3 linked regions of the Homo sapiens genome follow. The protein of the gene in region 2 purifies or fractionates together with the protein of the main gene of each other region. This does not show direct contact. Each region holds a gene or a part of one and is shown on either strand. Other genes may lie near its edges.

Region 1 (3,656 bases), on a different chromosome or scaffold from region 2:
ATAGCCGGGCATGGTGGCAGGTGCCTATAGTCCCAGATACTCAGGAGGCTGAGGTGGAGAATCACTTGAACCTGGGAGGTGGAGGTTGCAGTGAGCTGAGATCGCGCCACTGCACTCCAGCCTGGGCAACAGAGTGAGACTCTGCCTCAAAAAAAAGAAAAAAGTTTAAAGCCATATGTTCCCCCCTTTTTTTTTTTTTTTTGATCCACCTGCCTCGGCCTCCCAAAGTGCTGGGATTACAGGTGTGAGCCACTACACCTGGCCTCCATTTGTTCCCTTTTTATGGTTACTTCTGTTAAAAATCTGGCCACTGATAAACCTCTAACTCTACTATTTCTTCCACTGGAAATACATGTGCAATATGCTGTTTGCTGTCTCTCAAATATGTAAAAAATGTGATTCATCAAGCACCTTAAACATAACAGCTATTCAATAGAAGCTGCACAATTAACTATAAAGTTGACAGAGTAAAACTCTCCCTTGGAAACTAGAAGTCACTGATTTAAAAAACAGAAGGGAAGTAAAGATGAACGGAAAGTTAGTATACCGACGGTCATACTTTATTATCCATAGAAACAACAGATAGATAACAAACACGAAGTCCCTACTGACTTACATGGGAGCCTCTATCTGTTCTTCTGAGTGAGTTTCATGACAAACAATGGAACCAAACACTTTCGAGAAATGAGGCTAGACCATGGGAAATGCAACACAAATGTGGCCTCTGCCCACTTGCAACACAGGAAATAAAACAAGTCTAGGGAGAAAGTAAACTATGATAAAGAAAAAGTGGGGATAAAAGGTCCCTCTGCTTTAGACAAACCAAATCAGAAATAGTGTTCCTTTTCCCAAATTTCATGGGGTTTTCCTCAATTCACTCTTACCCCATAGAATCTTCCATCCACTCTCTTCTAGCCTTCCTGCCTTCACCCCCAAATGCTTTCCTTGTCTCTAGGGAACCAAGGCCCATCCCTGCCGATACAACATTTACATGAACCTGAGCACTGACAAGACATTCCTTGCCCCCAATTCCCCAAGCCCACAGGTGTATCCTAGCTACTCCAATCTTCCATGATGAGTCTAAAAGATCACCCCCTTGCATAGCCCTCTAGGCTATCTCCAGCCTATCCCTTCAATGCACGGCTTGTACACACACCGTGTGGAGTTATCTGGCACCTTCAGGTTCACTTTTAGCCACCCTGGGCCCCCGGAATATGGTGACAGATGGGACAGCTGATACCCAGCACTATGGCTGAATATATACATAGTAGGAGCTCAACAAACTTTTGGAATGAAGGTGTTCCCTAACTCCAAGCTTTCTTGGACCCCTTCCTCCCATGCTCTGTAAGATCTTCAAGACCCACCTCTAATTCCTGTAGGTTTCTCAGGCCTCTCACGCCCTAGCCTCCATCTCTAGCCCTATAGACACTCAAGCAATCTTACACTACTTACCAGCTCTCAACTTCATCTCCTCTGTCTTTTTGCTCAATCACTGTGATGCTAATAGAGACACAGACCCATTTCTGGACCTCAGTCCTCATCCTTACCATTATCCATCAGACTATGTCACCGGACAAAGATCTCATGCTCATATCCTAGAGGACCACTCTCCATCCACCCATGTGGCTCTCCCTGTACTTACCTTACTGAAGGAGAAGACTGGGATGGCAGGCTCCATCCATTTAGGAACCTGAGGATAATCTCGTACATTGATCACCATCTCCATGTCAGGGAGACGCCCGATCACTTCCAAAATAAAGTGCTCAACACCACTACACCTGTCAACCAGACATACCATAAATTCAGCAGAGTAGTGCCTGCAGGCTCTAGGACAAGGCGAGGTCCCATTCACATTTTAAAGTAAGACAAGCCAGTGTTCCAGTGTTCCATATCATCAGTCTACTGCAAAGTCTCCTGAAAACAATGCTTCTAAAGGGGCTATTCTGCTTTTTTGTATTGTGCAAGTTCACTCATAGCTAAGCTGCTCCAGCTTACAATACTTAATAAAATTTTCCAAATAAATCGTCATAGCTTTGAAGGGAGTATTATTGCTACTTCTACCACTTTATTCATTCCAGTTCTTTTCTTTATTTCCCTTATATGGAATAGTTTAATTAGTAGACAAGATACAAACTCTCGTAATAGCTGAAATAGCTAATTTTCCACCTGTGTTCCTTTGGCTTTGCTCCTCACAAAGACACCATTTTTATTTCCATTATAATTAAGTCTCCTAGTTTATGAGAACAGATAGAAAACCTTTCATTACCTTCAACCTGAATAAAGAACATTATCAAAATCAGTTCTGCAAGCCAGAAAAAGTGTTATATACATAATCATAAATAGTGTAACACAGCTTTCTGACTAGATTCCCTGGGAAATCAGGGATTTCTTGAAAGAAAAAGAAGATACACTGACAGTTTAGCTTGTTTCTGCCTCATCCTCTGAGGTCCTGACCAGCACTATGCTAGGGGCAATATTCAAAGGCTTGATCAAAATTTTCTGGCAGCATGGAAATAACTGATTTAAAATATTGTTTTACTACTTGGGAGACTTAGGCAGAAGGGTTATTTGAGCCCAAGAGTTCTAGACCAGCAACATAGTGACACAGTAGGCAATGTAGTGAGCTCCTCTAGCCAAAAAAAAAAAAAGTGTTTTTTATATAGGGAGATAACTGCAAAAAATATCAACAGTTCACAAACATAGGAAAAGATGCTCAACTGTATTAATAATAAAGAAATGTCAATGAAACTAGATACCAATTTTACCAATCAGATTGGCAAAGATCAAAAAGTCCAATAGTGCAGTGTTGGTAAGGGTGTGAGATCTATTCACAGCATATGATATATCGGTTGTGGAAGTGTTTAGCCTCTTTGTAGGACAATTAGATTCTATTTACCAAGATTTCTCTTTTTTTAAGGTTTTTTTTATTTGAGGCAGGGTCTCTCGCTCTGCCACTCAGGCTGAAGAGTGCAGTGGCATGATCATGGCTCACTGTGGCCTCAAAAATCCTAGGCTCAAGCAATCTTCTCACCTCAGCCTCCTGAGTAGCTGGGACTACAGGTGTGTGCCAACACACCTGGCAACTCTGTATGTGTTTGTGTGTGTGTGTGTGTGTGTGTGTGTGTGTGTGTGTGTGGAGAGACAGTCTTGGTATGTTGTCCAGACTGATCTTGAACTCTTGGGCTCAAGTGATCCTCCCACCTCAGCCTCCCAAAGTGCTGGGATTACAGGTGAGAGCCACTGTGCCCAGCCTGTTTATCAAGATTTTTTTTTTTTTTTGAGATGGAGCCTTGCTCTGTGGCCCAGGCTGGAGTGCAATGGCGCAATCTCAGCTGACTGCAACCTCCACCTCGGGTTTCAAGTGATTCTCCTGCCTCAGCCTCCCGAGTAGCTAGGATTACAGGCACAGGCCACCATGCCCAGCTAATTTTTTTATTTTTAGTAGAGATAGGTTCTCACCATGTTGGCCAGGCTGGTCTTGAACTCCTGACCTCAGATGATCTGCCTGTCTCAGCCATCCAAAGTGCTGGGATAACAGGCGTGAGCCACCTCACCCAGCCTATTTATCAAGATTTTAAAATGACATTAATTGCCCTAGTTATTATACTTTTAGGAATTTAGCCTACATATATATTTACATGAGTGTTCACAGTAAC
Region 2 (3,656 bases):
CACATAGGCACCACCACATTCTATTCCATTTTGGAAATTAACCTCATACCTAATATCAGAGAGAAAAGCAGAAAACTGTATGGCATTTTGAAAGATCGAAACTCTCTTAATGTATTTCCTCTCTCCCTCATCTTAGTCACGTTTTATCATAGGTCAAATGTTTACCCTTACAAAGGATTCCATCTTCTATTGTTTTTGAATAGTTATCAAATGCCACAAAAATAAATAAAATTAAATTGAACATTAATGCAGATTTCCAGTAAATTTGTTCTGCAAAATCTACAAGTTATTTAGAGTCAGGAAAATGAGTAACCAGTTTCTTTCAAAATAATGCATTAGGCAGGAAAAACTATTAATTACTAGTTTTGTAATTAATTAATTACAAAAACTATTAATGCAGATTTCCGGTAAATTTGTTCTGCAAAATCTACAAGTTATTTAGAGTCAGGAAAATAAGTAACCAGTTTCTTTCAAAATAATGCATTAGCCAGGAAAAACTATTAATTACAAGGTGTTTAAATTCACCCAAAAATCCCTACCACCACTTATATAATCTCATAATTTTTTAACATAGAGTAAAAGTTACATAATGTCTTCTAAGATTACCCTTTGCAGAAAGCTTTTATCCAACAAGCATTTCACTTACTGAACAATGAGAGGCTTGGTGTCAAACAGGAAGGGCTTGTTCAGTTTAGCAGAGATGGCATGATGCTTGGCCCGAGACATCAACACAAGTCCTTTATCACCTGGAAGCTTTGACTCCTTCATTTCCTCTACCTCCCACTTTCCTACAAGACAACACAAAAAAGTTCCACTGCTTAACTCTACCTCTGAAGGTCCTTTAAATGCCAAAAAAAACACCTCCTAGTTGCATAAATATATTATACTGGGGCAGCCGTGGTCGCTCACACCTATAATCCCAGCACTTAGGGAGGCTGAGGGCAGGCGGATCACTCAAGGTCAGGAGTTCGAGACCAGCCTGGCCAACATGGTGAAACCCCATCTCTAATAAAAACACAAAAATTAGCCGGGCGTGGTGATGGGCACCTGTAATCCCAACTACTCGGTAGGCTGAGGCAGGAGAATCGCTTGAACCCAAGAAACAGAGGTTGCGGTGAGCCAAGATCACGCCACTCTATTCCAGAAGCCTGGGTGGCAAGAATGAGACTCCGTCTCAAAAAAGTAAATAAATAATAAATAAACACACTTTATTTGGCAAATATTATTCAGATATGGCTTTTTAAAACTGTAGTGTATTATACTACTGTCTAGAAATTTCCAACATTCAGTAGCACAGGTGATTAAACAGATCTAATCCTATTAAATATAAGGCTACACATGCACCCCTGAACCTTAAATAAAAAAAAAAAAAAAAAAAAAATTAGGCAACACACAAAGGTGGCAAAACTTCCATGGAAAAATCTTTTTTTTTTTTTTTTTTTTGAGACGGAGTCTCGCTCTGTCACCCAGGCTGGAGTGCAGTGGCGCGTTCTCGGCTCACTGCAAGCTTGGCCTCCCGGGTTCACACCATTCTCCTGCCTCAGCCTCCCCAGCAGCTGGGACTACAGATGCACGCTGCCACGCCCAGCTAATTTTTTGTATTTTCAGTAGAGACGGGGTTTCACTGTGTTAGCCAGGATGGTCTCGATCTCCTGACCTCGTGATCTGCCCGCCTTGGCTTCCGAAAGTGCTGGGATTACAGGCGTGAGCCACCGCACCTGGCTGGAAAAATCTTAAAGCCTACTATGTCCTTTTAAACTAGTCTTAGGAAATGCCATGGAGACAACATGTCAAACCTCTATCTGCTATTATATCTAAACCAAATGGGATTCTCACCATCATATTTGGCAATTTCATCATCGGTATCGTCTTTCTTGGCTTTGGATAAAATCCACCTGTAAATAACAAATCCCAAAATCAGTCTTAAAATGACAGTTGACTTGTGAGGGAAAATTATGTAAATACTCATTAAAGTAGGACCTATTCTGCTCTTAGCCTATTTAACCACTCTACTTCCAACCTTTAAATCTGTCACACAACTAATGATAATACATTATCTTCAACTCACAAACCTATATGAAAAAGTACCAAACCTATGAGATAATTCCACTGATGTTTTAACATCAAGAGAAAATTTTTTTCCTCAATCAAAGAACAAAATATAGGGTAGAGTGGGGGAGGGAAAGAAGTGGAAGTAAAAACCACAAATTCCAAAAGACTATTTTCCTGCATGGATGTTAACACTGAAGATATTAAAGCTAGAAATTTCAGGCCAGGTGCGGTGGCTCATGCCTGTAATGCCAACAATTTGGGAGGCTAAGGCAAGTGGACCACCTGAGGTCAGGAGTTCAAGACCAGCCTGGCCAACATGTCAAAACCCCATCTCTACTAAAAAAATAACAACACACACACACAAATTAGCCAGCATGGTGGCGCATGCCTATAATCCCAGCTACTTGGGAAGCTGAGGCAGGAGAATCACTTGAACCCAGGAGACGGAGGTGGCAATGAGCCGGTATCACGCCATTGCACTCCAGCCCAGGCAAAAGAGCGAAATTCTGTCTCAAAAAATAAATAAATAAAATAAAATAAAGTTAGACATTTCACTATAAAAGATGCTATCCAAAAAGGAATCTACTATCCCATCTTATTTACATGTCTGCCTCTAACATATATTTCTCTGGAAAACACTTACCCTGACAGAGTTCCTCTGTCAAAAGAATCAGCAAAATATACTTCCCCTGTTGGAACTGGAGCTTTGTAAGTAACCTGTGTTAAATACATAAATGAATTAAAAATTTAAATTTTCAGCAACATGCCTTTTTATCTAGAATCTATTCTCCTGGTTTGCTTTCAACTGTCACAAAAATTTCATAGCTGGCCTTCAAATTCAACCCATATAATTGGCCTCTAGCAAGACAAAGGCTGCCAGAGAGATCAATAAGTATTTTCACGAATTTTGCTTTCCCTTTGAAAACGTTCCAAATTTATCTTCACCATGTTTTTCTTTTATATTTTATTAGAGATGATATCTCCCTGTGTTGCCAAGGCTGGACTCACACTCCTGTCCTAGGCCTCCTGAGTAGTTGAGACTACATTTCCCTGCACCCGGGTATCTTCATAATTTTATCATCTCAAGACGTAAAAGGAATAGATTCAAAGACCATTTCAAACCTTGGGAGATGAAGGAGGAGCAGTGGTATCTGGTTTTGAGTCTTCTACCTCTTCAATGACATCGTCAAGGTCATCCTCAATATCAATCACATCATCATCATGTCCATCATGAGCCTCAACAATAGCAGTTCCAAGCACCAGTAACATACACAGCAACCACTTCCCTTCCATGATCTACACATAAAGAGCAAAATCAGTTAAATGTATTGCCACCTATCAAACTTCATGAAGATCACTAACCACTCTCTCATTTAAAATTAAAGCTTTTAAATCGCAGAGCTAAAAAGAACTTACTATTTCATTTCATAGATAAAGAAAGGCAGCCTAGAGAGATTAAAGGGTTTCCCTAAAATCAGTTAAAAGATTCCATTTCTGGAAAATTTCAAAATAAAACTGAAACATACACAACATCCTCATATAGAGAGGATTGGTTACACAGATGTGGGGCATTCAAATACAATTTCCAACAAACTTTTGCATTT
Region 3 (2,997 bases), on a different chromosome or scaffold from region 2:
AAAATCTTTCAGAAAGAGAGTTCAATCCAATTGTGGGGATAGAAGCCATATTGTAGGGAGGAAGAAGGTATAGAGAGGAAATGAAGTAGTGGTTAGGAATAAAAACTTGTAAGAAGTTTGTTTGACAGTGAAAGGAAGGAATAATAGTCTCATAGATGAAGAGGAGAGCAAGAGACAGAACGTTTTTCCCAGCACAGAGAAAAACCTATGGGTGGTTAAAGGAAGTGGTAAAGGAGCCAGGAGATGACTGGAGGTGTTGGAGAAAACAGATGTAAGGGTGCAAACCAGAATGCAAAAGACTTGAGAAGAGATGGCATCAGCAAACCACCTCATCACTGTAGCCAAACTAATGCAGGGTCGATCATCTGAATGTCCAAAGCCAAGAGTCTCCTCTTCCTGAATATGAGTAGGAATTAGAGGAGTAACCAACCTGTCTAACCAGGTAACTAAAGCTGCTTTTGTGTGAAATAACCGTTGGGAACAATTGGAACTGTGTGAGACAAATAAAAGCCAGGTGGCTCCTGGGAAACCTGCCTTAAGGGGAATCCACACCAACTTTAAGTGTAGCTGAGGTGTCACAACAGCATCTGGGGCTAGCCTTAAAGTGGAAAAAAAAAATCACACTTTTTCTCCCACTGATGAAGGCAAGCCCTAGAAAATAGAGCTTTGTAAGTTAGACACTACAATTCACTGGTTTCATATAGAAAACTAATTACAAAGGCATCCTTATGATGCCAAAAATTAGGGACTCTATTAGGTAACTGAACTATGTTTTCCAAAGTATAAAAACTTGCCTCTAGACTTGGAAGTTATATGTAGCCTGCTTGAGACCAAAACTCAAAGGCAGAGACACATCTGGCTAATTATTAATCCAGAACTCTCTCTGAAGTCAGCATTATTTTCAAAGAAAATGGTTGGATATAGCCAAGAGAACATGTAATATTTAACTGATTATAGAGAACACACATAGAAAACTACATTTTAAATGAAAAATCTTCAAATAATGCTCATGGTCTTTATATACTGTTTCATAAAAGCTGGGAAAGACTCTTATTCAAATTCTTGGCAGTGAAATATTGCTAGAGTGACAATTAAACAGTTAGATTTGACAGAAACCAATTCCTGAATTCTCAAAATCTGAACTTAACCCCTCATTCCTATTTCTCCCCAAAGACCTCAGCCCATAGCATAAGCCAGAAACAAGCATCTCCTTTTTACTTTCTTTTTAAAAATGCAGACACCATTGCTGCTGGGCACATTATAAGCATCATTTGTAGATGAGGCCTATAGTTAGGTTCAATTAGATTCAAAGAGAAGCTGTTTCACAGAATACAAGTCTCCCATTCTTCAACAGAGATGTGGGCTGCTTTTAAACGGCAAGCTCTACAAGAGAGGGCTTATGAAAATCCCTTTCTGTAGCCAAGATGGACACTGTCCTTTCCCTGACACACCAAGCACCAAATCCTCATTTGGAATCTAGCAAATCTCTCAAAAATTTTAAAATCAAAACCAGAAACCCAAGTTTCCATAGAGAACTGGCTAAAAATTGGTATGCAATCATAGCAAGTGACTCAGCACTGCTACAATTACTTCAAGCCATGAACTTGATGCGTCCAAGATTAAGGAGCCTATCAAAATGCACCCAAGTTTCAGGCTGCTTAGTAATAACTATTGTCCTGCCACGAATCCCCATTACTGGTAGAAATTTGACCCAGACACAATTTTAAAAATGCTTACAAGTGAACTGAGACTCCCAGTCACTCAGAGTCTCCTGCTGGGCAGCAGTGAGGTCAGAAAGGTCATCGTACTCATCCTTCAGTGCTTCCTTATCCAGGCAAAATGTGGCAAGGCCCCTGGATGCATCTCTTCCAGCAAAGACCCCATACGGCCCCTCTTCAAAAACAAAACCAAAGATCAATTCTTTATTAGACAGTCAATTTCTCTGTGATTTATACACAGAAAATGGCTTCCCTATTCATCAACATAGCCCCATTTTTGAATATCAAATTCCATTAGGAAACCATAGTAATGCTGATATTCTGAACATTATGTAGGAGACACAGAAAGACCTGTTGTCATTTAACTTTTAAATAACTAAAAGTAAATCAAACTGCTATACATTTGCGTCAGTCTCCTGTGGTTTCCAAATAGCTAGTAAAAAAGTCATACGTGGTTAGTGATCTCTTGGGGTAGTGGTAGTAGGGAATCATACAAGAACATTGAACTGGGAGCCTGACAGTTCTAGGCACTTGGGGCTACACCAGTGAGAGTTATGGTTTCTTAAGATAATAAGCACTGATGTGTACATGAAAACACATTTCCTTATGAATATATTCTGATATGTTTTAATGAAACAAAGGTATCTTATAGAGATCTTTGGTTCCAAGGCTCAATTAAACATTAACTCATGGCATCTGCAGAAGAACCATTTTATAACAGTATCGGTGGTTTAAAAATCTATCCACATTACATAACCTTCACTGTCAATAAATAGATAACACAGAGATCAGTCTTCATTATCTGTTTTTTGGTGGGCTTGAGAAGACTGTGAAAATACTAAAATTTTCATGGAAAAGAGGCTGAATCAATACTGCAAAACAACTCTATAAAACAACTCTATAAAATGTGATTATTTGTGATATTATACTGAACTTTTGTCTAAGAGAGCAGAGAATCATTCTGTGGGTACACAAAGTGGATATTTAGACTTATTTAAATATTGCACAACTAAATGAAGAGAATCCAGTGTACTTTAAACAATGTGTTGTTTCCCCCAAGGCAGATTGAATAGCAGCCCTGACATTAAAATGTTTGTAGGGAACCAAGTATGAGAATAGATCAAGTTTCAATATGGCCTGTTCACCTGAAACCTCAATACACTCAGAAATTTTTTACAAATTTTACAACTTTTAAATGCAAGTAAAATTCCAAAGAAAAATGCTTATTTTTAATCATCATTACATGCTGCCACATTCACTAAAGAAGGTAAAAAAAAGC

Evidence for each region.
Region 1: the proteins of CANX (region 2) and POGLUT1 purify together in Homo sapiens (affinity purification with mass spectrometry; 4 studies listed by BioGRID and IntAct, with this or other methods). This does not show direct contact.
Region 3: the proteins of CANX (region 2) and PGRMC1 purify together in Homo sapiens (affinity purification with mass spectrometry; 3 studies listed by BioGRID and IntAct, with this or other methods). This does not show direct contact.

What each region holds. Positions count from the first base shown.
Region 1 is NC_000003.12:119,475,435-119,479,090, reverse strand, and holds part of POGLUT1 (protein O-glucosyltransferase 1 precursor), read right to left. Parts: intron 1,779-3,656; coding exon 1,643-1,778; intron 758-1,642; exon of another isoform or gene 617-757; intron 1-616. UniProt on the Homo sapiens protein: Dual specificity glycosyltransferase that catalyzes the transfer of glucose and xylose from UDP-glucose and UDP-xylose, respectively, to a serine residue found in the consensus sequence of C-X-S-X-P-C.
Region 2 is NC_000005.10:179,705,371-179,709,026, reverse strand, and holds part of CANX (calnexin isoform d precursor), read right to left. Parts: intron 3,349-3,656; coding exon of another isoform or gene 3,346-3,348; coding exon 3,175-3,345; intron 2,770-3,174; coding exon 2,696-2,769; intron 1,896-2,695; coding exon 1,837-1,895; intron 789-1,836; coding exon 647-788; intron 50-646; coding exon 1-49. UniProt on the Homo sapiens protein: Calcium-binding protein that interacts with newly synthesized monoglucosylated glycoproteins in the endoplasmic reticulum. It may act in assisting protein assembly and/or in the retention within the ER of unassembled protein subunits.
Region 3 is NC_000023.11:119,239,205-119,242,201, reverse strand, and holds part of PGRMC1 (membrane-associated progesterone receptor component 1), read right to left. Parts: intron 1,894-2,997; coding exon 1,738-1,893; intron 1-1,737. UniProt on the Homo sapiens protein: Component of a progesterone-binding protein complex. Binds progesterone. Has many reported cellular functions (heme homeostasis, interaction with CYPs). Required for the maintenance of uterine histoarchitecture and normal female reproductive lifespan.